4 linked regions of the Homo sapiens genome follow. The protein of the gene in region 1 interacts with the protein of each later gene in a biochemical or structural test. Each region holds a gene or a part of one and is shown on either strand. Other genes may lie near its edges. The genes, in order: NSF, ASPSCR1, PLK2 and RAMP3.

Evidence for each region.
Region 2: the proteins of NSF (region 1) and ASPSCR1 form a complex in vitro, tested with the Homo sapiens proteins (one study listed by BioGRID).
Region 3: the proteins of NSF (region 1) and PLK2 form a complex in vitro, tested with the Homo sapiens proteins (one study listed by BioGRID).
Region 4: the proteins of NSF (region 1) and RAMP3 interact in far-western blotting, tested with the Homo sapiens proteins (one study listed by BioGRID).

The regions. Positions count from the first base shown.
Region 1 is NC_000017.11:46,586,723-46,593,680, forward strand, and holds the start of NSF (vesicle-fusing ATPase), read left to right. Parts: upstream 1-3,946; 5' UTR 3,947-4,053; coding exon 4,054-4,065; intron 4,066-6,958.
Region 2 is NC_000017.11:81,973,158-81,980,636, reverse strand, and holds the start of ASPSCR1 (tether containing UBX domain for GLUT4), read right to left. Parts: upstream 3,009-7,479; 5' UTR 2,991-3,008; coding exon 2,889-2,990; intron 1,454-2,888; coding exon 1,398-1,453; intron 1-1,397. UniProt on the Homo sapiens protein: Tethering protein that sequesters GLUT4-containing vesicles in the cytoplasm in the absence of insulin. Modulates the amount of GLUT4 that is available at the cell surface. Enhances VCP methylation catalyzed by VCPKMT.
Region 3 is NC_000005.10:58,457,087-58,464,659, forward strand, and holds the start of PLK2 (serine/threonine-protein kinase PLK2), read right to left. Parts: upstream 3,001-7,573; 5' UTR 2,874-3,000; coding exon 2,604-2,873; intron 2,007-2,603; coding exon 1,899-2,006; intron 1,756-1,898; coding exon 1,639-1,755; intron 1,443-1,638; coding exon 1,313-1,442; intron 1,086-1,312; coding exon 998-1,085; intron 498-997; coding exon 402-497; intron 294-401; coding exon 95-293; intron 7-94; coding exon 1-6.
Region 4 is NC_000007.14:45,153,224-45,160,802, reverse strand, and holds the start of RAMP3 (receptor activity-modifying protein 3 precursor), read right to left. Parts: upstream 3,013-7,579; 5' UTR 2,975-3,012; coding exon 2,917-2,974; intron 1-2,916. UniProt on the Homo sapiens protein: Accessory protein that interacts with and modulates the function of G-protein coupled receptors including calcitonin gene-related peptide type 1 receptor (CALCRL), calcitonin receptor (CALCR) and G-protein coupled estrogen receptor 1 (GPER1).

The sequences.
Region 1 (6,958 bases):
GTTAAATTCTGTTACCACAACCATTACAAACAAATGTCTATATAACCAAAATGTTAGTCAGCCCCATTCCAATGGAGCACATTTTAAGTGATGTTTAATGGGACATAATTTGAACATAAAATTCTATCTGTGCACTGTTTTCAAGTCTTTGAATCAGGCCTCCACCTATAGATGTTGGTTACCTATCAGGGAGCAACAGGTGATGCTAAGGATCACTTTGTAAAAACCAGGAATCACATCCCTGTAACTGACAGGAAACTGACTATATTCATCAGGGTTCTCCAGAAAAATAGAACTAACAGAATGTGTATATACATAGGAGGAAATTTTGTTTAAGGAATTGACTCGTGTGATCGTGGAGACTTTGGGAGCCCAAAATCTGATGGGAGAAGCTGGCATGCAGGAGGCCCAGGGAAGAGTTACAGTTCTAGTCCACAGGTAACCTGCTAGAGAATTCCTTCTTGTTCTGGATGAGTTTGGCCTTTTGTCTATTCAGGCTTTCAAGTGATTGGATGAGGCCCACCTACATTATGGAGGGCAACCTTCTTTACTCAAAGTCTACAGATTTAAATGTAAATCTCATCCAAAAACACCCTCACAGAAACATCCAGAATAATATTTGATCAAGTATCTGGGCAACATGGCCAAGCCAAGTTGACACAGAATTAACCGTCACACTGGATCACAAGGGCTGTGTTCAGCAAGAACTGACCTTGGTCAAACCCTGCCCCTGCCCTTATGCCCCACTCTTCTTCATTCTGGGTCCTGCTATTTCCATTTTATCATGTCTTCATCTTCTTTCCCCACCTTTCAGGTACCTTTCCTCTCTGACCCTATCCCTAGACTCACCTCCTACCCCCCACTCAAAGCCCTTCCTTCCTTAAAAAATGATGTTAGTCATTACACTTTAGGATTTAAATTAATCATTCTGTTAGCCGTCTTACTAACTTTCTCACTGTGAAAGGAAAGCATATTAAAAGAATTTCAGGGATCGACGAAGAGCTGAGGGAGGTATTTTTCTAGGAAGAGAAAGTGACTAACAGAAATCAAGACAAAGGGGGACAATCAGATTTTTCAGATGACAGAAAGCAGGTAAACTCTAGAGATCTAGAGAACTAGCAAATGGTCTCTTCAGGGTGTCATCATTGCAGTAAATGAGCTCTAGCTATTTCTGTCTTTATTCTTCAGGGTATTCAAGATTGCAGTTACTTAGGAGAGACAGAGCATCTGACTGATTGAACTTGGGTTCTGTATTCACTCCTGGGCCAGGGGGAGGCAGGGTACCTGGTCTGACAGTCCTTCCAAGGCTGCATGAACCAGAGGAGCTGTTACCAGAAAAGGGCAGAGTGAATTTGGGGCAGCAAAAACATTTATTGCTTATCGACTATCACTGCAAGGATTACTCAGAGGGTGATGCAGAATCAGCACCCCTCTATTTCTAAGATGACCTTGAATGTCAGAGCAAGGCACAAACAGGTTGCAGAGACATGTGGAGTATCTGGAGCACTGTCTCAGGATCCTTCCTCTCCTGCTGGATGCTAAGGACCTTAAGGACAAGAGCTATCTTTGCTTGCAATTTATTTGGCAGGCCCTGCAGGGCTGTGCAAATGATTCTATTTAATTTTTACTACTTGTGAGAAGGCACAGAGGGCTTTGAGAGGGCACAGAGGGCCTCTTATAATGGGTAGATATGCACATTAGCTGATACACTGGAAACTTTCCAGCAGGCATATCCTTCCAAGATGATAAATATTCTTCCTTGTTGGAGAAATTGAAGACATTTGTACTTGCAATCTAGCTTATCTAGTAAAACAAGACAAACTAACCAGTGATAGGGAGAAACATGTTTGCATTATTTTCCAACCTTGAAAATAATGTCAGATTATTGGACTGAGAACCAATGTCATCTTCTGGATCTGGTAATTATTTGGACAAAATCTCTTTGATTCTAGGTTCAAAGTCAAGGTGTCAAAAAAAAAAAAAAGGATACAACTGTTAAGCTTATTTAATTATACCTCTCACTGTACAAATAAGGAAACTAGGCCAGGCGTGGTGGCTCACTTCTGTAATCCCAGCACTTTGGGAGGACAAGGCCAGTGGATCACCTGAGGTCAAGAGTTCGAGACCAGCCTGGACAACATGGCAAAACCCTGTCTCTACTAAAAATACAAAAATTAGCTGGGTGTGGTGGCAGGCGCCTGTAATACCAGCGACTTGGGAGGCTGAGACAGGAGAATAGCTAGAACCCGGGAGGCGGAGGTTGCAGTGAGCCGAGATCATGCCACTGTGCTCCAGCCTGGGTGACAGAGTAAGACTGCGTCTCAAAAACAAACAAACAAAAACAAATAAGGAAACTGGGCTCAGAGAGATGAAGGTACACAGGTGATGGGTAGATAGGGACAAAGAAAAGAACCTAACCCTTTGGACTCCCCAAGCCATTCTAATATTTGTTTTTGTAAGTTAGTAGCTTCTGCACGTTAGTATGTCAGAACTCAACTAGTTTCCTATCTTTCCTGATAACCTCTCCGACCCACCCATGATTTAGCTAACATCTGATTTGGTCAACCAAGCACCCTGGTCCTCAGGTTCAGTGTGAGACTTAATGAAATAGGCGTGAATTTTTTTTTTTTTTTTTTTTTTTTTAGACGGAGTCTCGCTCTGTTGCCCAGCCTCGCAATCTCAACTCACTTCAACCTCTGCCTCCGGGGTTCAAGCGATTCTCCCACCTCAGCCTCCTGAGTAGCTGAGATCACAGGCGCCCGCCACCACGCCCGGCTAATTTTTGTATTTTTAGTAGAGACGGGGTTTCACTATATTGGCCAGGCCGGTCTGGAACTCCTGACCTTAGGTGATCCACCCAAAGTGCTTGGATTACAGGCATGAGCCACCGCGCCTGGCTGGCATGAATTTTTTCTTCTGTCCCTAGTTCATCTTCAGGTCACTGTCTGATTTTATTAGTTCTCAAATTTAAATCACTATGCATGCTCAGCTCTTCTAGTTATTTCCCTTCTTTCCTCATGTTGGGAAAAAAACCCCGATTTATTCTAATTGTGAGAAATGAAAGCGAACAAATCCTATCATTCCCTATTGTCTTGTGCAAATATGAAGAGAGATATGATAGTGGGGTAAATAAAAGCATCAGGGAATCCATTCGGCAGAATCTTTCTCCTCTCAGCGTGCTTGCAGTTAGATATTCTGAGATTCCAGTGGAGAAATGGTATGGTGGAAACATTGAGGTTCAACAAGGCTCAATTTAGGGCATATTTTATTCAGATTCTACCATATATATTGTCTAAAATGAAACAACACTGGGGAATGAAAAGGTTGGTCGAAGATGCAAGTTGCCTTTATTAAATAAAGACAAATATTTAATAAAAATAATGTATAAAAATAATCACAATTCACTTTCAAATCTGAAAATACTGAGTTTTCCAGGCTACACATAAATAAAACTGCCAACGATGACAATTCCAGCAACTAGGAAAACAAGTACGCCTACAAAGAAAAGTGAGAAAATTCATGGAGAATTTGAACTCAGAACCAACTCCTCGGAGCTGATCTTTTTTGGGGGAAGCCAGGGAACGCGCCGGGCGCTCTCATCAGCAAGACCATGTTTAAAGAGAGTGTGGAAGCACAGACCAAAATGGACATTCGAGGGCGAACAGCAGCTGGCAAAGGGATAAGTGATCCGAAGCATTAAAGCCCTTGAGACAAATTCCGGCGCGAACCGCCAGTGGGGGATGAGACTCGCAGGCGCAGCCCTCCAGGCCCCGGCGGACTGACACGCACGTTGGAAACGGAGTCACCCACCACAGCCCCGCAGCTCCAGCCAAAATGGCGCCGCCGCTCTGCCCACCCCGCGCACCCCAGGCGGCCGCCGAGCCCGCGCGCGCGCCCTGTGGAGCGAGGACGCCGGGGACGCGGCCAGGGACGCGCGCGTCCTCACGGCGGTTGCACGCCTGCGCGAGGGCGGGCGGCGGGGGCGCGCGCGCGGCGGGGGCGGGCTTTGCCGAGCGCAGAGCTGCAGCCGCCGAGCCGGACGTGTCCGCGAAGATGGCGGGCCGGGTGAGTGCCGGTCTGGGAGCCCAGGCTTGAGGCAGGGGCGCCGGGCTCGCGGGCACTCTGGGGTCCAGGCGGCCCCAGAGGAGTGGGAGTGAATCCGAGCAATGGGGCGCGAGGCCAGAGCGGGACTTGAGGGTAGCAGGGGAGCGGTGGCAGGGGATTAGCCCTCCTCAACAACTCCACCCCCCTCGAGGGGAGATGACCCCTCGTTACACGCGTCTGCTGCGCCTCCCGTCATCCTCCCTTCCCATCCCTTGGGGCTTGTTCCCTCGTCCTCCACACAGCCGCAGGGTCGCGGTCGCCGAAGCCCCCTCTGACGGGCTCTGGGGGTCTTTCCGCACCCCCTTGCGAGGGCTTATTAGGGGGCGCCGGAGTAACTGCCGGGAGCACCTCTGCTGCATTCGGGGCAAGGGGTGTAGGAAGGATCTTCAGGAACCCATGTCTGGCTCTTCACAAATTAAAGGTCGTTGGGAAAGAGGAGGGGGTGCCAATGACTTTTAGTGTTAAAGCCCGGCCATCTGGGGGACCTGTCAACTGTCGGGTCAGGCAGGAATTGGCTTTAGCTTGGAGTGAGGATGGATTTGGGGTGTCACGTTTTGTTTTTATGGATGACACTCGCTTCGAATGCAGCAGGATATGCTGTAGTTTCAGGGTTTTAAATTTACTTCCTCCTTTAGCCTTTAGGATCGTTGGGTAGGATGGGTTTGGCGAGGAGAGAGAGCTGGTTGAGTGCTGTATTGCAGTCTGCCTTGAGCTAAAAGCTCTCAAGGGATGAGTCCTGCCCGGAGATTACACTGGTCATAAACCTGAGGACATTAACTGCGTCATTGGGGGTGAAAGATGTGATTGACTGATCTATTTATAACAGAATTTTTGAATAAGTTTGCATAGATTTATGCATATATGCAAATGCCCTATCTGAAGGGACTTGTAGGTCATGAGATTCTAGAGTAAGAAGGGATCTTAAAGGTCATTTAGTTTGGCTTCTTTCTCTTCCTTTTCCCCATGGCCTCTCCTTTTAAGGCTAGTCCTTCTGCCAGTACTTCAGACCCTATCTGTATATTCACCTGCTCCTTCTTAACATAATCAAGCTTCTCTATCTTAAACCCTTCCCCCACCCCCACAGCTGTCACCTTTTCCCGTCCCAGTTTACAGCAGGAAATTTGATAGAGTTGTCTATATTTATTGTCTTCCATTTGCTTACCACCTACTCACCCTTCAACCTACTGCAGTCTGATTTCTGCCCCATCATCCCACTGAAACCTGTCCCTCAACTTAATTGATACCTTTCAATCCTTATCTTATTTGATATCTCAGCAGCGTTTGACGTTGTTGACCATGGCTTCCTTGACGGAAAGCACTCTTCACATGTGTTCTGGAATGCCTCGCTCCTGGTTTGACTCAGACCTCTCTTTTGCGGCCTCACCCTCCTCTACTTTGTTATTCATTGCTGGTATTCCTCAAAGGCCGTCTTCTCACTCTCAATTTCCCGCTCAGGCAATTTCTTCTAAGCCCATAGCTACAACTGTCTATATGCCAGTGATTCTCAATATTTTACCCCCAGTCCAGACCTGCCCTTTAAGTTTCAGGTTAATATGTCCAACTGCTTATTTAAAATCAAGGTCCCGAAACGCAGCTTTTTCAACTCCGAACCCAGGATCTTAGCCCACCTAACTTGTGTAGATACTCCTCGACTTAACGATGGGGCTACCTTCCGATAAACCCATTGTAAGCTGAAAGTATCAGAAGTTGAAAATGCATTTAATACACCCGATCTACCGAATATCATAGCTTAGCCTAGCCTGCCTTCCTTACACATGCACAGAACACTTACATTAGCCTACAGTTGGGCAAAATCATCTAACATAAACCTATATTATAAAATGTTGAATACCTCATGTCATTTATTACTGTGCTGATAGTGAAAAACAGAATGGTTGTGTAGGTCTTCAAAGTACAGTTTCTGCTGAATGCCTATCACCTTTGCACTATTGTAAAGTTGAAAAATGTTAAGTCAAACCATTGTAAGTCAGGGACCATCTGTACCTATCCAGTGAGATAGGAATATCTCACTGAATGATACCATCATCCACCCAGTTATATAGGCTGGGAATCTGAGGGAGGGAGAGGGTGGGTAACCCTTTATGTCTCTCTTTTGCTGTACCCATGTCCTCTGCCCTATCCCCCGGTAAAATTTGTCAGAGTTCTGCTCCTGCCCCCCATAAAGGTATTTAATTAGGGCCAAAGACTCTGGTTTGGGGGAATGGTTGCTTTAGACTAGTTCCAAGTCACCCACTGGACTATCTGGATTGGTCACATGGGTTCTGTCATTTTAACCTAAAAATCTCCAGTCTGTCCACCTTTCCACATCTTCATTTTTACCTCCTTTTCCCAAACTACCATCATTTCTGGTCTGGACTACTGCAGGAAGCTTCCAAGTATTTTTTTGTTCGTTTGTTTGAGATGGAGTTTCGCTCTTGTTACCCAGGCTAGAGTGCAATGGCGTGATCCCTGCTCACTGCAACTTCCGCCTCCTGGGTTCAAGCCATTTTCCTGCCTCAGCCTCCTGAGTAACTGGGATTACAGGCGCCCACCACCACACCCGGCTAATTTTTGTATTTCTAGTAGAGACGGGGTTTTACCATGTTGGCCAGGCTGGTCTCGAACTCCTGACCTCAGGTCATCCACCTGCCTTGGCCTCCCAAAGTGCTGAGATTCGTGCCCGGCCTCCCAAGTAGTCTTCTTAGAGCATGTGGCCCACCTCCAATTCATTCTTGACCTTCATTGTTCCTTCCCGTGCCTATTACTACTTAAACCCCTCCTCAGCAGCATCCCATTACTTTTGGGAGAAAACCAAATCCTTAATGAGGCCTTCAGGACTCTTTGTGGTTCTGCT
Region 2 (7,479 bases), about 35 Mb from region 1:
ACACTTCCCAGCCTGTTAGAATGGCCACCCTGCAAGCTGCAACCGGTTATGAGAAATAAAGCCCTCCTTTCCAAACATATGAACCGCATTCTTCAGTTGACAAGAGAGACTGGAGAAGGATGGTGTGAAGGTCTGGGGCAGAAAGCCCAAGACCACCTGGCATTCAGAGCACAGGTCCTGGGATTCTCACGTGGTCCAGACACAAGGTAGAAGACTGGAATGACTTGGCAGGTATCACCCCTAAGAAACTCCTCCCAGGAGAGCCTCGTAAGGCAGGGTGGGCAATGCCAGGAGGGCAAGCTCCTGCCCTCTGCCCCCAGTGTTAGGACAACAGTACTGTAAAAACAGGTCTTCAAGGGCAGGCATGGTGACTCATCTCTGTAATCCCAGTACTTTGGGAGGCCAAGGCAGGCGGATCACAAGGTCAGGAGTTCTAGACCGTCCTGGCCAATGTGGTGAAACCCCATCTCTACTAAAAATATAAAAATTAGCTGGGTGTGTTGGTGAGCACCTCTAATCTCAGCTACTCGGGAGGCTGAGGCAGGAGAATCACTTGAACCTAGGAGGTGGAGGTTGCAGTGAGCCAAGACCGTGCCACTGCACTCCAGCCTGGGCGACAAGAGTGAAACCCTGTCTCAAAAACAAAACAAAACAAAAAAAACACCAGAAAACAGGACTTTAAAGTGAAAAGCTTCGCGTGTGGGATAGACACGCACATCCTATCCATATGAGGGCTCTGACCCTTCTGCTGTCTCAGACTCCTTGAGAGTCTGGCAGAAGCCCTCTCTTGGGAACAATATCCCCACACAGAAGCGTACGTGTAATTCCAGGGGCTGTGAGACTGCAGGGATCCACCTGCAGTTTTCAAGGCATCCTATTTCTCCACGGCCAGCTCTTTCCCCTCAGAGCCCCACTGGGAACTTATGCAACTCAATGCAATAAAACCTACAGGGGGTTGAATGGTGGCCCCCCCAAAAAAGATGGGTCAATGTCCTCACCCCCAGGACCTCTGAACATCTTACTAGGGATCCTGGTCTTTGAAGATGTAATGATAAATCGTTCTAGATTATCCAAGTGGACCCTAAATCCAATGACAAGGGTCTTCCTGAGACACAGAGAAAACAGGAAAAGGCCACAAGAAATCGGAGGCAGAGAGCAATGCGGCCACAAGCCACAGAACGCTTGGAGCCATGAGAAGCTGGAAGAGGCAGGAGGGATTCTCCCTTAGGGCATTTGGAGAGAGTGTGGCCCTGCCAAGGCCTTGGGTCTCCAGAGTTGGGAGGGAATATATGACTGTTTAAAACCACCTGGGGGCTTTTCCAAGTGAGAGCCAGTATGTTCAGGGGGCAGGGGCACAGATATACTCAGACCCTGCTGCTGAGCTGGAGCAAACTCACTTCAGATCATATTCACAGGGGTTGAAGTCCTGCCGCCGGCACGTGTCCTCCAGAACCTGGGGGTGAGATGAAAGGATGGTGAACTGCTGAGTGTGCAGGGCTGGCGGGCGCAGTGGGCCAGGTCAGCCAAGGGCATTCAGCTTCCTGGTGAGCCAGGTGGCTCTGCCCAGGCAAAGCCAAGCACAAGACCACACTATGGACGGTCCCCGCAACAAATGCAGGCTCTCACCTGCAAATCCTGTCCACTCTCCCTCCCTTCTTCACCATCCCCTCAGTTTTGTAGGAAAGCTCCACTCAGAGTTCCCCTGCAGTACAGCAACACGGGCATCTTCCTGGCACACACCCTGGGCTCTCCTTCAAACCCTGTAGTTCTGCAACCTGCCTTAAACTTGCCTAGCACAAGCTACCCCCTGGCTCTGGCACGGTTCTGTGCACCTGCTGCCACTGCCTGCACCGCCTCCGCCCCTCTTCTCCATAAAAAGCCAAAGCCGTGGCCTTGCACCAAGGGGTCCCGCGCAGCCTCTGCGGGAGCGCCCCACTTCCGCACTCTGCACGCCTGGCACCAACAGCCTCCTGGCTGCGCCCTCCACCTGCCCAGGCCTGGGGACCCCACGCCGTGGGCTGCTCCCGCAAACTCCGAGTCGTGTGCACCTTCGGATCCTCACGGTCCCCCACGCAGCAGAGGCTCAATAAATACTTTTTTTTTTTTTTTTTGATATGGAGTCTCGCTCTGTCTCCCAGGCTGGAGTGCAGTAGCGCGATCTCGGCTCACTGCAAGCTCTGCCTCCCAGGTTCACGCCATTCTCCTGCCTCAGCCTCCCGAGTAGCTGGGACTACAGGCGCCCGCCACCACGCCCGGCTAAATTTTTTTGTATTTTTTTAGTACAGACGGGGTTTCACCGTTTTAGCCAGGATGGTCTTGATCTCTTGACCTCGTGATCCACCCGCCTCGGCATCCCACAGTGCTGGGATTTACAGGCGTGAGCCACCGCGCCCAGCCAATACTTTTACATTTAATTGATTCGCGGTCACAAGGTGCCCAAGTAAAAGTGCAGTGAGTGACTCGGCAAAAATCGCTTCCAGGCCCCACGGCCGGGACATCTGCCACCGCGCAACCCGGGCTCCCGCTCCGGGGGACGCCCCGGAATGGGAACGCGGGTCTAGGGCTCCACTCCTCCCTCTTCCCGGCGCCCTCGCGAGCTGGGCTCGGCCGGGCGCCGAGTACTCGATGCGGGTGACACGCGGCGCCGTTCTACCTCACCCCTGGGAAGGCTCGCCACCGCCCCGCCCCCACTCGGGACCCCCGGGACCCCCGGGACCCCAGCGGAAGCGCAGGTGACGGCGAGCAGGGGGCGGGGCCGCCGCTCAGGAGGCCGCTCATTGGCCGCCGAGGCCCCGCCCCCGAACACCGGGACGCCGACCGCAATGGGCGGGGCCTCGGCGCAGCGCCCCCCGCCCGCCTACCCGTCCGCCCCGGGCGGGCGGCCGCACCTGAAGCAGCACGGTGCTCGGCGTCACCTTCACCGTGTGGCGCCGGCCGTTCGGGGCCAGCACCGACACCGCGGAGCCTCCGCCGCCTGCCGGGGCCGCCATTTTCCGCTCACGTGACCCGCCGCCGGGCCGGCGTCAAACAACTTTATCGGCAACAGCCAGGACGCGCAGCCACGCGGCCAGGGGGCGGGGCCGCAGCGCACTTCCGGGTCCTGCCAGGCCCCGCCCTTTCCCCACCCACGGCGCCCCGGCCCCGCCCTTGGGCCGCCAAAGCCCGCGCCAGACCCGGAAAGCGCGGTCGTCCTCTGCCTCCGGGAAGCGCGGCTTGGATGGGCTCGCCGGGGCCAGGCTGGGCCGGGGCTGGGCGCGCGGTCACCCCCGGTGAGCGGCACTGAGCCCCGGGGTCCCAGCGGTCCGCGCTCGCCCACCCTCGCTTCGTCCCTGACACGTCCCCAGCTCGGTGCCCTGCTCTCCCCCGACCCTCCCGGCTTCCTCCACTCCAGCAGCTGAGCCTCTTCCCTGCCCACCTGTCCCTGTGGTCAGCGTCCACCTCCTGACCTTATGGTTTGGGGCAGTCCCCCCGCCCCTGTACGGATCCTCCCTGGGTGTTGGGACTCGTGGCCCTCAGTCTAGACCTGATTTCTTTCATCCTAAAATGGGAGTGCAGAATCTGGCAGCCCTAGGGCTGCCGCGACGGTCCCTAAACCTGAGGGTAGGAAAGGCGGGAGACCGGTTTCAGAACCGTGGGGTGAGCGAACTTGAGTCTCACCGGAGCTCCTGCCGACCCACAGGCACTCAAGGACTTCCCGCACCAACCCATGCTGAGGAGGGGCTTGGTGGCAGCCTCAGGAAACACTCCCATCGCCAGCCACCGCAGCAGGGAAAGCACCTGGCCTCACCAGCTCCAGGCTTCCAGAAGGAGCTGCCCTCCTGACTCGCAGCCGTCGAATGTGCTTAGCTCCCAGCACCTGGGCCACTCATGGACAGCACTCGCACGTGTTCCGCCCCGCCCCCCACCTCCATGGCTCAGCCGGGCCTTGGCACTCCTCTCTCCATGTGCCTGCCTGTCTCTGCGGACTCCTGGCTAGGGCTCAGCTGCCCAGTAGCCTGTGGAAGGGGGAACTGGTGCAGTTATCAGTCAATCCTCCCACAGGGCTGGGATTACACACGTGAGCCACCGCACCCGGCAGTCATTGCTGAGTCTAAGGACATCTCTGCATGGGTGCTGTTGTGCCTTCCTGTCGATGACATATCCATGTCACCCACACACACCTGTATGCTGACAAACACGGACATCTATGTACATTGGAGAAACCTGGGGAAAGCCCCAGGCTAGCCATAGCCCTCCCATCCAGCCAGCCAGTCCCATGCTCTGTGCAACCTCAGAACCTTACTGAGCCACACATCACCTGGTGGGTTTTAATTCTTTAGTGGCGTTTTTGAAGAGTCTGTTCCTATTTTCCTTAGACTGTCCCACAGTCTGGATCCTTGGTTAAACGTTTGGGGCAATGATGAAGGGAGGTGACAAGTCAGCAGGAGGTGCAGGACATCAGCGTGGCCATGAGTGAGGACGTGAAGTTGAACCACTTGGTCAGCTTTGGGTCTGCTGAATTCCTCCATGGTCAAGGTCCGTGGCTCCTTGTGGAGTAATTAAGGCATGCGTGAGGTCATTCTCTGAGACCACAAGCATCAAGTTTTCCCAATAACCATTTGCCCAACAGTTTTAGCATCAGTTAATGAGTAGATTCAGTGTTAAACCGTAAAGCTGCAAAATCATGGCTTCCCAAGTTTATTGTTTCTTCTACATTTATAGTCACTTTCGGTCAAGCTTCCCCTTCTTTAAAAAGTTATTAAATATTTGGGAGGCTGAGGCAGGAGAATGGCGTGAATCCGGGAGGCAGAGCTCGCAGTGAGCTGAGATCACGCCACTGTACTCCAGCCTGGGAGACGGAGCAAGACTCTGTCTCAAAAAAAAAAAAAAAAAAAAAATTAAATATGGCCAGGCGCGGTGGCTCACGCCTGTAATCCCAGCACTTTGGGAGGCTGAGTTGGGCAGATCACAAGGTCAAGAGATTGAGACCATCTTGGCCAACATGGTGAAATCCTGTCTCTACTTAAAAAAAAAGTACAAAAATTAGCCGGGCATGGCGGTGCGTGCCTGTAATCCCAGCTATTCGGGACACTGAGGTAGGAGAATCACTTGAACCTGGGAGATGGAGGTTGCAACGAGCCAAGATCGCACCATTGCACTCCAGCCTGGGCGACAAGAGTGAAACCCCATCTTGAAATATATATATTTATTAATATGAATTCATGTATTTTTTTCATTCAGTCAGCATTCTTTTTGATGCTCAAATTGGTCCGAATTTGGCCAGTGAGACCTCCTTTAAGCTGGCTCCTATGCTTTTTTTGATAGGAGGGATGATCTTTTATCCTGATATTATTTCAAACTTAGCCGAGCAAGGTGGCTCACACCTGTAGTCTTAGCTACTCCGGTGGCCGAGGCAGGAGAATTACTTAAGTTCCAGCCTTAGTGAACCACTATTCATGCCTATGAATAACTACTGCACCCCAGCCCGAGCAACGTAGTACGATACCGTCTCAAAAAAGGAGAAGGAGAAGAAAGAAGAAGAGGGAGGAGGAAGGAAGAAAGAGAAGAAAAGTTTGCAAAAGCAAGAATTCCTGCTGTATATCTTTTTTTTTTTTTTTTTTTTTTGGAGATGGAGTCTCCCTCTGTCGCCAGGCTGGAGTGCAGTGGCGAAATCTCAGCTCACTGCAACCTCTGCCTCCCGGGTTCAAGCGATTCTTCTGCCTCAGCCTCCCGAGTAGCTGGGACTACAGGTGTGCAGCACCACACCCAGCTAGTTGTTGTTTTGTTTTGTTTTGTTTTTTGAGACGGAGTCTCGCTCTGTTGCCCAGGCTGGAGTGCAGTGGTGCAATCTCGGCTCACTGCAAGCTCCGCCTCCCGGGTTCACATCATTCTCCTGCCTCAGCCTCCCGAGTAGCTGGGACTACAGGCACCTGCCACCATGCCCGGCTAATTTTTTGTATTTTTAGTAGACATGGGGTTTCACCATGTTAGCCAGGATGGTCTCAATCTCCTGACCTCGTGATCCACCCGCCTCAGCCTCCCAAAGTGCTGGGATTACAGGTGTGAGCCACCACGCCCAGCCTCCTGTATATCTTTTAGCCAGATAAATCAGTGTTTACATGTCACCCCATTTGTTTTATCATATTCTCTTTCTCTCTCTCCATATACATGTAAAAACTTTTTCTGGCCAGGCACAGTGGCTTACACCTATAATCCCAGCACTTTGGGAGGCCAAAGTAGGAGGATCATTTGAGCCTAGGAGTTTGAGACCACCCTAGGCAACATAGTGAGACCCCAGCTCTACAAAAAATACAAAGGTTAGCTAGGCATGGTGGCATGTCCCTGTAGTCCCAGCGATTTGAGAGATTGAGGCAGGAGGATCACTTGAGCCCAGGAGGTCGAGGCTGCAGTAAAGACATTGAGCACCTTCGCCACTAAATACTTCAGTTTTTCTCTTTCCTAAGAATAAGGCCAGTCTCAACCAGGTGCAGTGGCTCACGCCTGTAATCCCAGCATTTTGGGAGACCAAGGCGGGTGGATCACCTGAGGTCAGGAGTTCAAAACCAGCCTGGCCAACATGGTGAAACCCTATCTCTACAAAAAATACAAAAAGTAGCTGGGCGTGATGGCAGGTGCCTGTAATTCCAGCTACTTGGGAGGCTGAGGTGGGAGAATTGCTTGATTGTGGGAGGTGGAGGTTACAGTGAGCCAAGATCACGCCATTGCACTCCAGCCTTGGCGACAGAGTGAGACTCAGTCTCAAAAAAATAAATAAATAAAATAAGGCCAGTCTCTTATATAGCCACCATAATTTCATACAAAATTGGGAAATCTAATGTTGGTATCATACTCTGAGTTAATCCACAGTTAATTGTCCAAGTGTGGACATCTTTCCTGCATCCTTTTGGCATTTCCATTATTCTTTGGGCATCTCCTCTCTGCCCAAGCCCTGAAGTCAGCCATTTTTCAGAGAAACCCCAATCCCTTTTACAAGGAAATGGGATTTAGAGACCAAGTTCTGGGTGCTGAGTGTGCTCATGGCTACTGGGATGTCACTGCTTTCTGGGCCCTCTCAGGGGACACAATTAGTGTGATGAATTCATCTGAATATTTCTAAGCCACACCTCAGCCTTCTCCCCCTTCTTCCCTCATTCCATATTTGTATTTGGTTGAATTCTATTAAATTGCCCTAGTTAACCTTTTTTTATCTTCTTTTTTTTTTTTTTTGAGACGGAGTCTCACTCTGTCACCCAGGCTGGAGTGCAGTGGCGCAATCTTGGCTCACTGCAAGCTCCACCTCCCAGGTTCACGCCATTCTCCTGCCTCGGCCTCCCGAGTAGCTGGGACTACAGGCACCGGCCACCACACCCGGCTAATTTTTTGTATTTTTAGTAGAGACAGGGTTTCACCATGTTAGCCAGAATGGTCTCAATCTCCTGACCTTGTGATCCGCCTGCCTCGGCCTCCCAAAGTGCTGGGATTACAGGTGTGAGCCACCGC
Region 3 (7,573 bases), on another chromosome or scaffold:
GAAGCCCTGTGGAATATTAGAAAAAGCCTTCAGTAACCTGTCAGGTAACTGGGATCAATACCAGGTAATTAAAAAAAAAAGATAGTGCACCAACCTGCAAAAAAAAGTCATGTCGAATGATGTCATCCAAACTGGGACGATCCTCTGGGTTTTTGGACAACATACTAGCAATTAAGTGCTTGGCAGGAGCCAGCAATGAGGACGGCATTGTATACCTTGCTTCCCTTATGCACCTATAAGTTTCTTTGAGATTTGTAGTTTCAAATGGGGGCCTCCCTAGTAACATTGTATACCTGTGTGCAAAGAAACACATCTTTAGCAATGGTCATAAAGCAACTCTTTTCAAGTGTTAAAATCTAAATCCGAATTTGCTTTTTAATTATTCTGCTGCATTTACTTACATTACACAGCCCAGGGCCCAAATGTCTGATTCACAGCCATGTCCTTGTTTGTTGAGGACTTCAGGAGAGAGATAATTTGGGGTACCACATATCGTTCTGGAAAGACAAAATATTGAGATCGTGTTAGGAACTATTCCACTACTTAAACTTGGTTCTCTTGACATGACTTGATGGGAGACAAAATCTTAAACAAAATCTTAAAATCTATACTGAATTTCTATTTGGAAACATTTGACTTTTGGCATCTGAAAATTCAATTGAGATCTGACCAAATGAGTTTTGGTAATTTTTAAAAATGCACACACGTTGTTTTAGCCCACATGCAAAGTGTTGTTAACCAACTAAAGCCAGGGACGTCGTGGCATTTTATACATTTTAAGCCAAGAAAAGACTTCATTGACTGCTTTCATAATCAATTTAGAGGCACAGGGTGCTCTGTCTAGTCCATAGTGGGCATTTAATAAGTATTTCTTTAAATTAACATTGCTATGATTTATAGATTTTATTACCGGACCTCTGAAACATTAAATGCAAAATAATGAAGGCATATTTGGTCTCCACAAAAGTCTACTAGGATGCATCTTTCTGACTCTTACCTCCTTCTGTGTTCCAAGGGTTCTAGCCTGGCTGCCAGACCGAAGTCCCCAACTTTTAGTTCCATGGCTTCATTAATAAAAAAGTTCCCTAGACGATAAACAAAACAAAATGTGAATCCCTTTGAAAATGCGTTCTAACCAAGTACACACACATCCACTTTGGAGCCAGGCAGCCAATTGTTATATGAAAGTCGCCCATTCAAAAGCAAGATTGCAGACACGAGATCCCAATTAAGAACATTAATATGTAAAAAAAAACAGAGAGAGAAAAAAGAACTCTAACACAAAACTCAGCTTTTGGCGTCAATGACTTACCTAGTTTGAGATCTCTGTGCAAGATTTCTTGTTCATGAAGGTATTTCAGTCCAGACACAATCTGCCTGAGGTAGTATCGAACTTCTGGCTCTGTCAACACCTTTCTTGCTTTCAAAATATGAGCCATTGACTAAGAAGAGGAGAAGGAAAAAAGAGAATCTGTCAAAACAGTTATCAAAATCACTGGTTTCCCTTTGCAGGATGAGCAATGAAAGTTAACTTTGCAGTGTAAGTGCTGCCACAGCTAAAATCCCAGATAAAATACTCTTTGAATACCATGTTAATTCGGGGTAAGCAAATGTTCTCAAATAGGAGTTGACACTTACCCTTCTACTGCAGTATTCCAAGAGAATGTAAATGTTTTCTTTGTCCTCGAAGTAGTGGTAAAACTGCACTACATGCTTATGATGAAGAATTCTGTGAAGCTCTATTTCTTTGTCAATCTAAATGAAAAAGCAAGGTAAGGCTTATTAGCTTCCAGTCACCTCGGAAAAGCCAGTGATTACACATGCAGAAGACATTTTCCTAACAGGGAAGGGCCATCCTTGCACACAAAGAAAATACTTTACTCAAGAGTCATACGCACCTTTTCCCTTTGATGAGGTTTAGCTACTCTGCTGTGAGGAATAATTTTTGCGGCGTAGACTTTGTTATTTGTCAAATCTGTCATCTCGTAACATTTTGCAAAGCCACCCTGAAAGGAAACAAAGCCGAGACGGAATTGAGGATGGCACAAAAATGGACGGCAGATATTTTAAATAAATAAATAAATGGGAAGAAAGAAAAGCAAAAAAAAAAAAATTGAGGAATGGAGGAGGGTGGACAGAGGGAGGCATTCGACTTCGTTAAAGCTCCCTCATGAAGAGAAATGCATTGCTGGAAACAGCAAGTTCAAACAGTTTCTCTTCTTCTTTTATAAAGGGGAGCTTTATGGAGGGAGTTGGAACGGGGAGACATGAAAAATAATCTCTGATGAGACTTGTCAGGAAAATTCCCTGGGAGCAGATAGAGGGAGAGAGGTCTGATGTAGAAAGCCCTCGCTTCCAGACTCAAGATGCATTTCTCTGGGCTGCGGGAGACACACAGTTCTGAGGCTAAGAATGCAAAGCCGATCCCCAGCGCTGCCGGCGCACAAAAGCCAGAGGGCAGGTGAGGAGCCCACCTCGCGCTGGGATCGGACCCCCGAAAAACCCGGAAGCGGCGGGCGAGGGACCCCGCGGGCTTGCCCGGCTTGGGGTCGCCCGGACAGACCTCCCGCCCGCCCGGCAGCCCGGCGCCCTCCGCTTGTCACCTTTCCCAGCACTTTGCCCCGGCAGTAGCGCTTCCCAGTCGTGGGGTCGACGATAATCCGCGAGATCTCCGGCCCCGAGTGCGAATGGTGGTGATGGTGGTGAGGGGCCGCCGGGGGCACTTGCGCCTGGGACTGAGGTGGCTGCGATTCCTCGGGGGGCTGCGGCGGCCGCTTCTTCTTCGAGTCCGCTCCGCAACCCTTGCCCAGCGCCTGCTCGCACATTTTGGTGCTGGCGGCTGGCTGGTAGGTGATAGTCCGCAAAAGCTCCATGGTCGCCTTGCCGCCCCGCACTGCCCGCTGCCACCCCCTAGGCGCGGTCACACGTCCGAGCCGGCCGTGGTCCTCGCACCCTTGCCTCTGGTGCCGACTAGCACCCAACACCCCGGTCCACTTGTGCGAGTGAGAGCGCTCGGCGAAGTCTTATATACGGGGAGGCGGGAAGGGGGCGGAGACTCGATACGCGACATCACGTCACGGCCTATGCCCCGCCCCACGGCCGGCCGAGCGCGCGTGGCCGGGAAGCAAGTCTTGTCCCGCCACCCGGGTCTCGCTTCCCAGCGGAGCCGCGCGCCTCAAACGCCGGCCGCCGAGATCTCTTGCGGCCGCGGGAAGGCCTTCAGAGCCGTCCGTGGGCCCCGCTGTCCCGTTCTTCGAAGGCTCCGAGCCTCAGCGTACAAAACAGAATCGCGAGGGCCGACGCCTGGCCTCACCCCCGCCCCAGCCGCCTGGTGGCAGGGCAGTGCCGTGACCCGAGCGAGTCGGGCGCGGGTGTAGACGCAGTCCCTCCCCCGCACAGCCCTTCCCGGCCGCCCGGGGCCTCCTGTGTCAAGGTATCAGGGTGCCCGGAGCCCGCCGCACGGGCAGGCGAGGCCTCCTCCGGCCGTATGACAGGGCTCGTCTGCAGCTGCCCCGCAGTGCCTGCCCGCGCTGTGACGAGCTCGCTGGTGTCTAGCTGGGGCAGTGCCGAGAGGCCGTGGGGGTGAAAGGCCGGGATTCGTGGAGCCGGGCATTCGAGCCCATCGCGCTAGGGCAGACACGGGCCCGCAGCCGGGATCCCGGGCCGATCGGCCAACCGTGCCAGGATCCCACTCGAGGCCCGTCTGGCCCCCGCCCATGCCCCTAGAGCGAGCCTCTGTCTGAGGTCGGCCCCTGAACCTTGCAGAGCGAGGTCGGCGTCCTGGCAAGGCGTCCTCCGCCCGTAGCCCGAAGATTGGAAAGCAAGGGCGCCATCTTGTGGAATGTTCCGGAATGCCGTTAGGTGTCGAAGTGGGCAGCGGTTGACAACCGTGGGCCTTTGACAGTTACTAGTACTAAACATCGATGCCGATTGTGAGTTTCCAATCAGAGTCATCTATGACTTCTTCCGAATGCATCTGTTGAGATGGCTCATGAGCTGCCCTGGTTCCTGGAGAGTCAATCTGAGACTTTCTGGGGTAGGGAGATTGGTAGGATGAAGAGAGGAGCGTAGGCCAGTGAGTGCAAACACAGCTTAGTTTCCCATTTCCAGATTTTGCTGTGCAGTTTGACTAATCTAGGAACACGTTTTTTTGTTTGTTTTTCTTGTTCTAATTACGATAGAGTAACATTTATTGAGGACTGTGCAGTATTTTTAAATGCCTTATTTCATCCTACAACAATTCTGAGAGAAATATTGTAAGGAAGGAAAAATAATTTTCCACCTTTCAAAGTTTTGGCCTGGGTCGCTGTAACCAGACAGATTAACAAGAAAACAAAGAAGCTTATTAACATATACGTCTCATATATACATGGGAGATAACCAGGAAAATTAGAGATGGTTTAAAATCGGGCTTAAATACTATCTTTAGCTAAACCAAAAGAAAAGAGTGGGGCAGGCAAGTTAAGGAATCATGACCAGGAAATGTACGGTAAACAGGAGTGGGGTTTCTTATTTCTTCATTGATAAGTTTTTCATGATTTAGAGTCATTCTTCCTGGTACAGAGGAGACACTTTTACAAATGGAGTTTTGTGGGGTTTTTTTGTTTTTTGTTTTTGTTGTTTTTTTTTTTAGTGAATGTACGTTTCCCTTACGAAAGGGTAATATGCCATTTTTAGAGCATTTCCTGGGTCTGCTGGTTCTCAAAATAATTATCTTAAAATAATCTTTATCCCAGGGCCATATTTGGGGTGGCATATTCTCATCTCCTACATTATTATTCCCATTTTATAGATGAGGCTTGGAGAACTTAGGTAATTATTGTATATTTTTACTAGATCATCGAGGTTAGGTTAATTAGCAGCACACTTGAATCTTTTTACCTATGTTAACAGGATATGGTAAATAGTTTTTTGAAGCTAAATTCCAGAGAAATTTAGAATACCAGATTATTGAATCCCTGGAAGGTACATACAAAAAGTTGCTGCAGTCCACTGTCAAATTTAGGTATGTGTGGTATCAACATTAATCGAACATTTACAAAAATACTGTGTCTCAAATACTTCCAGCATAATGTGGAAAAGAGGCTTATTGCCATTAGAGAGGAGAAAGGGAAAGGCTTTGCCATTAGCGAGGAGAAAGGGAAAGTCTTTGCTGTCACTTCCGTTTTTGATTCTTTAAAGAGTGCAGGGCAAGTCCAGGCATGTTTCTCATAAGTGACAATAGACTTTAACCCCAAGATTGTCAGGGATGGAATAAGGGGTGGGGCTTAGGGGTGGAAATTCAGAATTACGTAATTATCCTCTTTATTCATAAGCCCAGGGGTGACCTTTGCTTCCCAGATTTGTGCAAACCTACTCTCTAAGATGTAGAAGGCTTGCAGGTTTAGAAAATATTACTAGAATTTATCAAAGCTAGTTTACACACCATGTCTTTATGGTTGATAATAAACTGTATATGTATACATATGTGTGTATGTGTATGTGTATTCATTTGTGGCCTAAGATAAAAAACTGAAGAATAGATTGTCATGATTTTTTTTTAAATGTCAATTTCTTCTTTGATTAGCATACACTATGGTATGTATCTTTACCAAATGGACTTCAGTATTTGATAAACTGTTGAACATTCCATGTGAAATTCAGGTCTGTCTGCCACAACATGGAGGCATTTAATAAAATATTAACGCTGTGTAAATCTTATGTTGTCTTCTTTCCGACTGAGAACATGATTTTTTTGGGGTTGTGGTGCCATCATGTGGACAGAACCAAAATTGTAGTCTATAGAACAAAAAAGGAAATAAATGCGCTTTCTATTAAGTAGACTAATTACTAAATATCATGGAGTCAATTTGGTAACCAGTAGGAAGGAAAAAATGGATCCATGCTTCATATCTGGCTTATTTTCAAGCAAATGAAAGTTTGAAATACGTGAAATTTTAAGACAATATGAAAGAATTCTTTCATAGCCTGAATGTGGTAGAACTTTCAACTATTTACAAAATCTAGAATCCCTAAAAAAAAAAAAAAAGCAAGATTCATTAATGTAACTATATAGAAACAAAACCCTTTCATTGATTTAAAATAACAAAACACCACAAATAAAGTCAAAGGATAAATAACACTGGAAAAATTATTTTCAACTCATCACAGAGAAAGAGCTTATCTTCCTGTTATATAAAAACTCCTACAATTGGATAAAATACCAATTATCCAACAGAAAACAAATGGTTCTTACATTTGCTCAATTTCACTCTTCAGAAGAGAAATTGAAATGAAAGATATACTGAGGCACCCTTTCCTACAAAATTGGCAAAACCCTCAAAAGTTGCCGTGAACATGCTCAACTGCTGAAGTGTTGAGGAAGCAGCACTCCATATATTGCTGTTGGGAATGGAAATTGATATAATTTCAGTGAAAAGTAATTTGGCCAAATCTATCAAATTTAGAAATGAATGTATTCTCTTACTTAGGAATTTATCCTATGGATATAATCTCATATATAAAATGATGCATGACACATCAACAAATGATAAAAACCCTGGCCAAATTAAGCCCAATTCTTACATTTGTCAATAAGTTTTTATTTAAAAGAACCGTGCCCATTTGCCGGGATCTAATTAAACTAAAGAGCTTCTGCACAGCAAAAGAAACTATCGTCAGAGTGAACAGGCAGCCTACAGAATGGGAGAAAATTTTTGCAATCTATCCATCTTACAAAGGGCTAATATCCATCATCTACAAAGAACTTAAACAAATTTACAAGAAAAAAAACAACCCCATCAGAAAGTGGGCAAATGATATGAACAGACACTTCTCAAAAGAAAACATTTATGCTATCAACAAACATGAAGAAAAGCTCATCATCACTGGTCATTAGAGAAATGCAAATCAAAACCACAGTGAGATACATCTCACGCCAGTTAAAATGGCGATCATTGAGAAGTCAGGAAACAACGAATGCTGGAGAGGATGTGGAGAAATAGGAACGCTTTTACATTGTTGGTGGGAGTGTAAATTAGTTCAATTGTGGAAGACAGTGTGGCCATTCCTCAAGGATCTAGAACCAGAAATACCATTTGACCCAGCAATTCCATTACTGAGTGTATACCCAAAGGATTATAAATCATTCTACTATAATGACACATGCACATGTATGTTTATTGCAGCACTGTTCACAGTAGCAAAGACTTGGAGCTGACCCAAATGCCCATGAATGATAGATTGGATAAAGAAAATGTGGCACATATACACCATGGAATACTGTGCAGCCATAAAAAAGGATAAGTTGATGTTCTTTGCAGGGACATGGATGAAGCTGGAAACCATCATTCTCAGCAAACTAACACAGGAACAGAAAACCAAACACTGCATGTTCTCATTCATAAGTGGGCATTAAACAATGAGAACATATGGACACAAGGAGGGGAACATCACACACTGGGGCCTATCAGGAGGTGGGGGCCTAGAGGAGGGATAGCATTAGGAGAAATACCTAATGTAGATGACGGGTTGATGGATTCAGCAAACCACCAAGGCACGTGTATACCTATGTAACAAACCTGCACATTCTGCA
Region 4 (7,579 bases), on another chromosome or scaffold:
AATAGAAATCCATTTTGGTTGGTTTCATTGGGAAACAAAGAACATGCCGGCCTGTGTTTCTTTTGTCTCAGGGACTTCCAGACGCCACTGAGAGATGATAAACAGCCAAACAGATGCATTTCCGCCAGAAAGGGCTTTTGTGGCTAGTCATTTGGAAATGAAACACAGGCGCTCTCCCCCTCCTTGACAGAAAGAGCATCGACGAGACTGGCAAGTGGCTGCCATGGGCCACGGTCAGTCGACCTTGGGAGGCTGTGGATTCTGGGCGGTTCTGCCCCTGGTCTCTGTGGTTGGGCAACTTCCTCTCTAACCTCCAGATTTCTGTTTCCTTATGAAGAATAGGTAAGAGCATGGAGGTCAGATAACCTCCAAGGAACCTCCAGTGCCAAAAATCTATGGGCCTCTTCTTGGCCAATCACCACCTTCAAGTCTTTTTTTTTTTTTTTTTTTTTTTTTTTTTTTTTTTTTTTTTGAGGCAGAGTCTCGCTTTGTCACCAGGCTGGAGTGCAATAGCATGATCTCGGCTCACTGCAATCTCCGCCTTCCAGGTTCAAGCGATTCCTCTGCCTCAGCCTCCTGAGTAGCTGAGACTACAGGTATGCACCACCACACCCGGCTAATATTTTGTATTTTTAGTAGAGACGGAGTTTCACCATGTTGGCCAGGATGGTCTCGATCTCCTGACCTCGAGATCTGCCCGCCTTGGCCTCCCAAAGTGCTGGGATTACAGGCGTGAGCCACCGCACCCGGCCGGCCACCTCCAAGTCTTTAATTCACCAGAGTTACTGCTATCCAACCATGGCCCTTGGGCCCACTTGATTCAGTAGAATCAATATGACCACAGGTAACATGGCAGCAGGACATCATTTAATGATAAAAACGATGGTACCATGTTCATACGCTTGCACACACAGGCACACACACTATGGTGCTCCATCTTTGGGTGCTGTGAGTGAGCCTCATGAGGCCCAGTGCAGTCACTGGTGGGTGCCTTCCCATACCTCCCCTTGTTTAAGCATGAACCCTTCCACCCCACAATCCCATGCCCAACACAAGGTGATAGGGACTAAACTGAATGGAATCAAACTGACGGTCTCAGCAGCCCTTTACAGATTGCTATTATTACATCTACATTGCAGCTCGGAAACTGAGGCCAGTGAGTGCTTTATAATCTTGGGATCATGATCAGGATTTTCACCCAGACCAGAAGAGTCCAGTCAAGAGCTGGGCACCACAGCAAAGTGTCCTGCTGAGTAGACAACTGCTGGACTTCGCATCCCCACAGCCCCACACAGCATCAAATGCTTTCTGGAAAAAGGTCTGGAATTCTCAAAGAAGCCCCAGAGGCCTGCACCCTCCCTGCTGGTCCTCCTGAGCTAGTCCTCAGTCAAGAGGAACCCACCCAGCTCCTTCCTTCCAGACACAGCAGCATCCAGGGCAGATGTGGGTTCCAGTCCCGGATACCTCTGACACATCGGCCTGGGACCATGAGCAAGTTTTACCTCTCCCTGAATCTCACTCTGGCCAGTCGAACACTGGGAGGGTCTGCTGAGAAGCTGGACCTGGTCCCTATTCTGGCCAGGGAGCGTGAACCCATGTCCCATTGGAGGGGGACAGTCAGGACCAACACAACAGGACAAAGAAGTGGCCCTCAGGAACTGGGTCCACGAGAGACAGGATTATTAAGGGGGGATTCTGTGCAGGCGGAAGCCTGTGGTCCTTCTCAATTTGATACTGGAGATGATCAGGAAAGCCTCAGCTTCTCCCAGAATGAATTGAGAGGACCTTCCTTCCACTATAGCGACCAAGATCTCCACCTAAGGGGCGCTCACTGGAAGTTTGCTGAAATCCCAAATCAGCATGCTCCTGATTTCAGAAGCTGCCATCCACCTTTGCACTTCAACACAAAATCCACCACATCCTAGGCTCCAGCCCTGGAACACCAAATGAAGCCACACAAGTTCTGCACACCAAGACCTCTTCAATGGAAGGAAAATGACCACTGAGTTTGGTCCACCCTTTTCCCACCTCCCGTACCAAATCCCAAATCATCAAAACAGGCCCAACTCTGCATCTTACAGCCAGGGAAACTGGGGACCACCAGGCCAGGGCCCTCCATCACCAATGTCCCCCCCAGAACTGGCCAGGCTCAGTCACCACTCAGTGGACCCCAGCCCTCAGCAAGCACTCTTCCCCAACAGCCTTTACACACATTCTCTCTCTCTCTCTCTCTCTTACTTTTTCTTGGATAATTTCTTTAGCAAGGTACTTCAAAACAAGCTTTTAGTTTAATCTATTTCCATTTTGTGAGCAATGGTTCTTCCTAGAGTCCTGATTTCTTGCCGAAGAAGGCATTAGGAGAGGATGGCTCAGAGAGTCGCCCCGCTTCCCCTCTCAGCCAGTTCCAGGACACACACAGGCGTCCACACACTGAGGGGCCCTGGGAGGACCAGCTACCCAGTCCGGAGTCCACCCGCCCACGCCCCTGTGAGTGGTGGGCAGGCACTCAATGCCAGGACAGAGAGCTCACTACCTTACAGACAGCCCACCCTGGGGGATAAGGGGTAAAGAGCCAGACCTGGTCCACCTCTTCTCGCCCACCCTGAGGCGACCCCAGAACCGGGGCGTGGGGGGACATCACAACTAGAAGGACCGGGGGCTGCCGGACCCTGCCGTCAGAAGACCCCGGAGGGGGCCCTGTGCCTCCCTTGCCCGCCAGAGTCCTTCGCCTTCAGCTTCTCCCGGGTGGAACCCTCCCGCAGAGCCTGGGAATCCCGCCAGGGTCACTGTGCGCCCCTCCCGAGCTCCGGGGCAAGGGAAGGACCGCGGCGCAGGTGCGGGAAGGCGCGGGTCCACCCGGGTCCGGTGAACCCCGAGGAGTGGGGGCGCCCCCGGTGCGGGCCGTCGCCCCCTTACCGCAGAGCAGCAGCAGCAACGGGAGAAGTTGCGGGCGCCGCAGCGCTCCAGTCTCCATGGCTGGCCGGCCGCAGCTGGGTCACGCTCGGTCCCGCTGGGGGCGCGGCTGGGGGACGCCCGGTTGGGGTTGGGGTGGGGCGGGGCCTCAGGGGGTCCGCCCTCAGGCCGCACCCCCAGACCACGCCTGCGGCCGTGCCCCGTTGCCTCCAGATGTGGGGTGCAGTCCCTGCAGGCGCGCCGGGTGGGAGGGATGGGGGCGGCTGGAGTCTCAGCGGGGTGAGAGGGGGGCGAGGGCAGGGTTTCGAGCTGGGGACAAGCTGGGGTAAGGTGGGGTGCCGGCTGATGGGCTCTGAGGGCGGGGCTGGGGTGCTGAGCTGCAAAGGAGCTTTTTGGGAGCAGATTGTAGGGGCAGACTGGGAGGTGAGCTGGGGTGAGCGTGGGGGCCGGCTGACGGTGGGCTGGGATGCAGGCTGGAGAGACTTGGGGAACTTCCGTCCAGGCTCAGGGGCAGAGGGTGGGGGTAGACCGGGGAGGGAGCTGAGGTGAGGATGAAGCGCTGGCTGATGATGGCCTAGAGGAGTCTGGGGGTAGACTGGAGGAAGGTGGACCTGGGAGTGGGCTAGGTGTGCCCTGGCCGAAAGTAGACCAGAGTCCAGAGCTGCCCCCAGGCAGGGAGGGGAACTTTGAGCAGAGATACATCTAGGAGCCAGGTCTCCAAAGGTCAGGAAAGTGCATAAAAGAGGTTGGGGGGTGTGTGTGTGTGCGTCTGTGTGTGTGCGTGTGTGTGTTGTTCATGGAGTACGTGTGTGTGATGTGCATGTGGGGTGTGTGTAGATGCATGTGTGTGCATGGAGTGTGTGATGTATGGTGTGTGTGTGGCATGTGTGTGTTTGAGTCTGAGACAAGGTGTGTTTGTGAGTGTATGCTTGGGAAACAGTGTGTATGAGAGAGACTGGAGGGTGTGGCAACTACACACACAGAGACGTATCACACACCAAGAACCAAGCCACAAGCAAACCAAGGGACAGGAGAGTATCTGGCACCACCAAAGACCTGGCCTTGAAGAGTGTCAGGGTCCCTGAGGCGAAGGAGGGCCTCAGTTTCTCCAGCCACAGGTCACTTGGCCAGATGGGTCACCTCTGTCACCCTCAGCCCCTAGCACAGGCCCTGGCTCCAGTGGACACTTAATGGTGTCTTAAGAATTGTCACTGGTCAGGACTTCCGAGAGCCAGCTAGAGGCACCTCTCTGCCCTCCAGGGCCCACCCACCACCCCTGGGGGCACATGCTGGTCTGAGGTTGGGGCACAGGCCCAGGCTCCTACATGGATGGGCCCTCCACTCCTCTGAGCCGTAGGTACTGCTACCTTCCCAGGAGCTGAGCTGAACTTCTCCTGGCTTAGAAAGACCCACTTTATTTAACAAGACCCTTATTCGGGAGAAGAACTTTCTGTGCTTTTTTACTGAAGAAATTCTGATTACAGCCAGAATTAATTCAAAGGAGTCAAAACTAATTAAAATTGATCATTTGTCCTGCCTTCTGCCTGAGGGGTGGGCAGCAGGTGTAGGGGTGGCCACAGAGCCTCTAGTGAGACTGATGGTGCCCACAGCCAGGCCTTCTGCCCACAGGCCAGGGGTCATAAAACAAGCTGACCAGGGCAGCAGGGGGCTGGCTTACACACACGCACACCCTACACCAGCCAAGACAAACCAAGAGGATGGTCCAGGCCCAGGTGTCCACCCACATCCCACACAGACTCGGCCCTACAGCTCTCTCCAGGAGAGTCTTAGTCTCCACTCGGTCCCACAGCCCCAAAGGCGGTTGCACATAGCTTGCAGGCTGGAACAGTAGGATGGGGTTGTCAGGTGGGAGGGGGGCAGCCAGTTCCCCCAAGCCTGCACCAGGGAGCAATGCTCCCTTTCCTGGACTCCCCACCCTGGCTCTGCAGTGGGGAAGCCCTGGCCATTCTACAGAGTTGGGTTCCAACACCTCTCCTCCATGGAACCAACCATGCCCCAACAAACTCCCAGGGAGTTGTGTCTACTGCCCCTAGGTCCCTCTAAGGCAGGGCCCTCACTTCTCCTCTCTGTGCCCAGTGGTGCCCATGGCCTCTGCAGGGCAGGTGGGTTTAACACAGGCTGTGAGGAGCTGAGCCATGGGAGAGAGGGACCTGCCCCTTCCACGGTGCATCCCCCCGACCCTGAGTGTGGAAAGGCTGCCGCCATAAATGAGATTGACCATGGGGTGTGCCCTGGACAGCACCTGTCTCCCTGCTTGTCCCTCGGTGGGTGCTGGCCCCGGCACCATTCCCTGTGTCTGCGATCCTGTGTGCACTGGGGTCCTCTCAGGAATCCCCTCTTAGCGTTCATAATTATTTATTTATTTTATTTATTTATTTATTTATTTATTTATATTTTTTTTAGAAGGAGTTTCATTGTTATTGCCCAGGCTGGAGTGCAATGGCATGATCTTGGCTCACTGCAACCTCTGCCTCCGGGGCTCAAGAAATTATCTTGCCTCAGCCTCCCGAGTAGCTGGGATTACAGGCTTGTGCTACCATGCCCGGCTAATTTTTGTATTTTTAGTAGAGACGGGGTTTCTCCATGTTGGTCAGGCTGGTCGCGAACTCCCGACCTCAGGTGATCCTCCTGCCTCGACCTCCCACAGTGCTGGGATTACAGGCGTGAGCCACCGCGCCCGGCCGGTTCATAATTCTTTACACCAAACTTCCCCATTCAGGTTGCGGTGTAGTCTCTCTCCTGATCAAGCCCTGATTCACCATTATCATGATATTTATTCTGTGATTCCTCTTATTCTTAAATAGTTGTAAGAGAACATTTTCTTGACACTCAAGTGGCCTCTTCTAAGAGGAAGAAATAACATCCTGGTGTTTCTACCAGATCAGGGGAACACATGGCCGCTGGGCCTTCACTCTCCCTGGAAGTAATGCTTCTGCCCGGAGTCCACGTGTCCAGGCAAGGGCCTGAGCACAGAACCTGGTGAGGTTTGGGATCTGGTTCTGCTTGCTCTGGGGCTAGACTTCAGGAGGGTGGGGGTTGAGAAGGAGCCAAGGGAAGCCATTCCCGGGCACCTGGCTCCCCCTGCTGGACAGACACTGAAATAACGGTATCATTGTCGATGAGACTACGCCTCTGTCCCTGAGGCAGCAGCAACGCCTCGGTGACCCCTCTCCAGGGACACAGAGGACCGGTCTTCAAAGAAGGGTGATGAAGGAGATTCCAGGAAGGGGTGCCTCTGACCCTCAGCTGTTTTCCACCTTCCCACGGATCAAGACACAGCCTTCCATCTCCTGTTGCGTTTGTTTGCTCATTTGTTTAATTGCAATAAAAAATACTTAACGTCAAATCAAGCATTTTAGGATGGGTGTGGTGACTTATGCCTGTAATCCCAGCACTTTGAGATGCCGAGGTGGGCTAACTGCTTGAGCTTAGGAGTTCTAGACCAGCCTGGGCAACATGGTGAAACCCCGCCTCTACAAAAAAAATACAAAAATTAGCCGTGTGTGGTGAGGTGCGCCTGTAGTCTCAGATACTGTGGAGGCTGAGATGAATTTCCTTTTTTTTTTTTTTGAGACATAGTTTTGCTCTTGTCACTCAGGAGTGCAATGGTGCCATCCCGGCTCACTGCAACCTCCACCTCCTGGATTCAAGCGATTCTCCTGCCTCAGCCTCACAAGTAGCTGGGATTACAGGCCCTCCCACCACGCCCAGCTAAATTTTGTATTTTTGGTAGAGATGGGGTTTCACCATGTTTGCCAGGCTGGTCTCGAACTCCTGACCTCAGGTGATGCGCCCACCTCAGCCTCCCGAAGTGCTGGGATTATAGGTGTGAAGCACTGCGCCCGGCCTCCTTCCTTCTTAAGGCTGAATAATATTCTGTTGTGTGGATAGACCACATTTCATTTACCCATTCATCTGCCATTCATTTCCTTTTTTAAGTCAATGAAGCAAGTTTACTTTCATTTTATTTTATTTTTGAAAAACCTATCAGAAAATGTCTTGAGGAAAATACATTAAAATGTTATCTGTGGTCATTTCTGGCTCTGGAAAGATTTAAAGTGGTGTTTAATTTACATTACCTTCTGCTGGTCTCTGCTTTCTCATTTTCCTACAGTGCATTTTGTGGCATGTGGTGGGTTTTATATAATGCATGTGTTGTGAGAGTTTATGTGTGTGCACTGATGAGTATATGTACCTGTGTGGGTGTGTTGTGCAGCTCACGAATGTGTGGCATGTGTGTATGGGATGTGTGTGTACCTGCTGTGAGGTGATGGTGTGTGTGTGTGGTGTATGAATGGGTGTTCATGTGTGTTGTGTGTGGAGCATATATGAATCTATGTGTCTCATGATTGTGACTGTGGTGTGGGGCATAAGTGTATGCACACGTGAGGAATGTGTGAGTGTGTTCAGGCAGAACATTGTTGGCCCCTGCTGGACAAAATACGCACAGTCATTTCCTGGAGCACAACCTCCCCTCTCCCACCACATCATCTGACCCTAAGCATGCTGACCCCATCCCCCTCTGCCCTGCTCCCACCAGGCGACATAAGCAAAGACTCAGAGCTGGTGCCAGGGCAAGTTTGGGGCCCTGAGCATACCTCTTGGCTTCTTTGAACCTTGGTGAGCTCAAAGTTAACTGCAACAG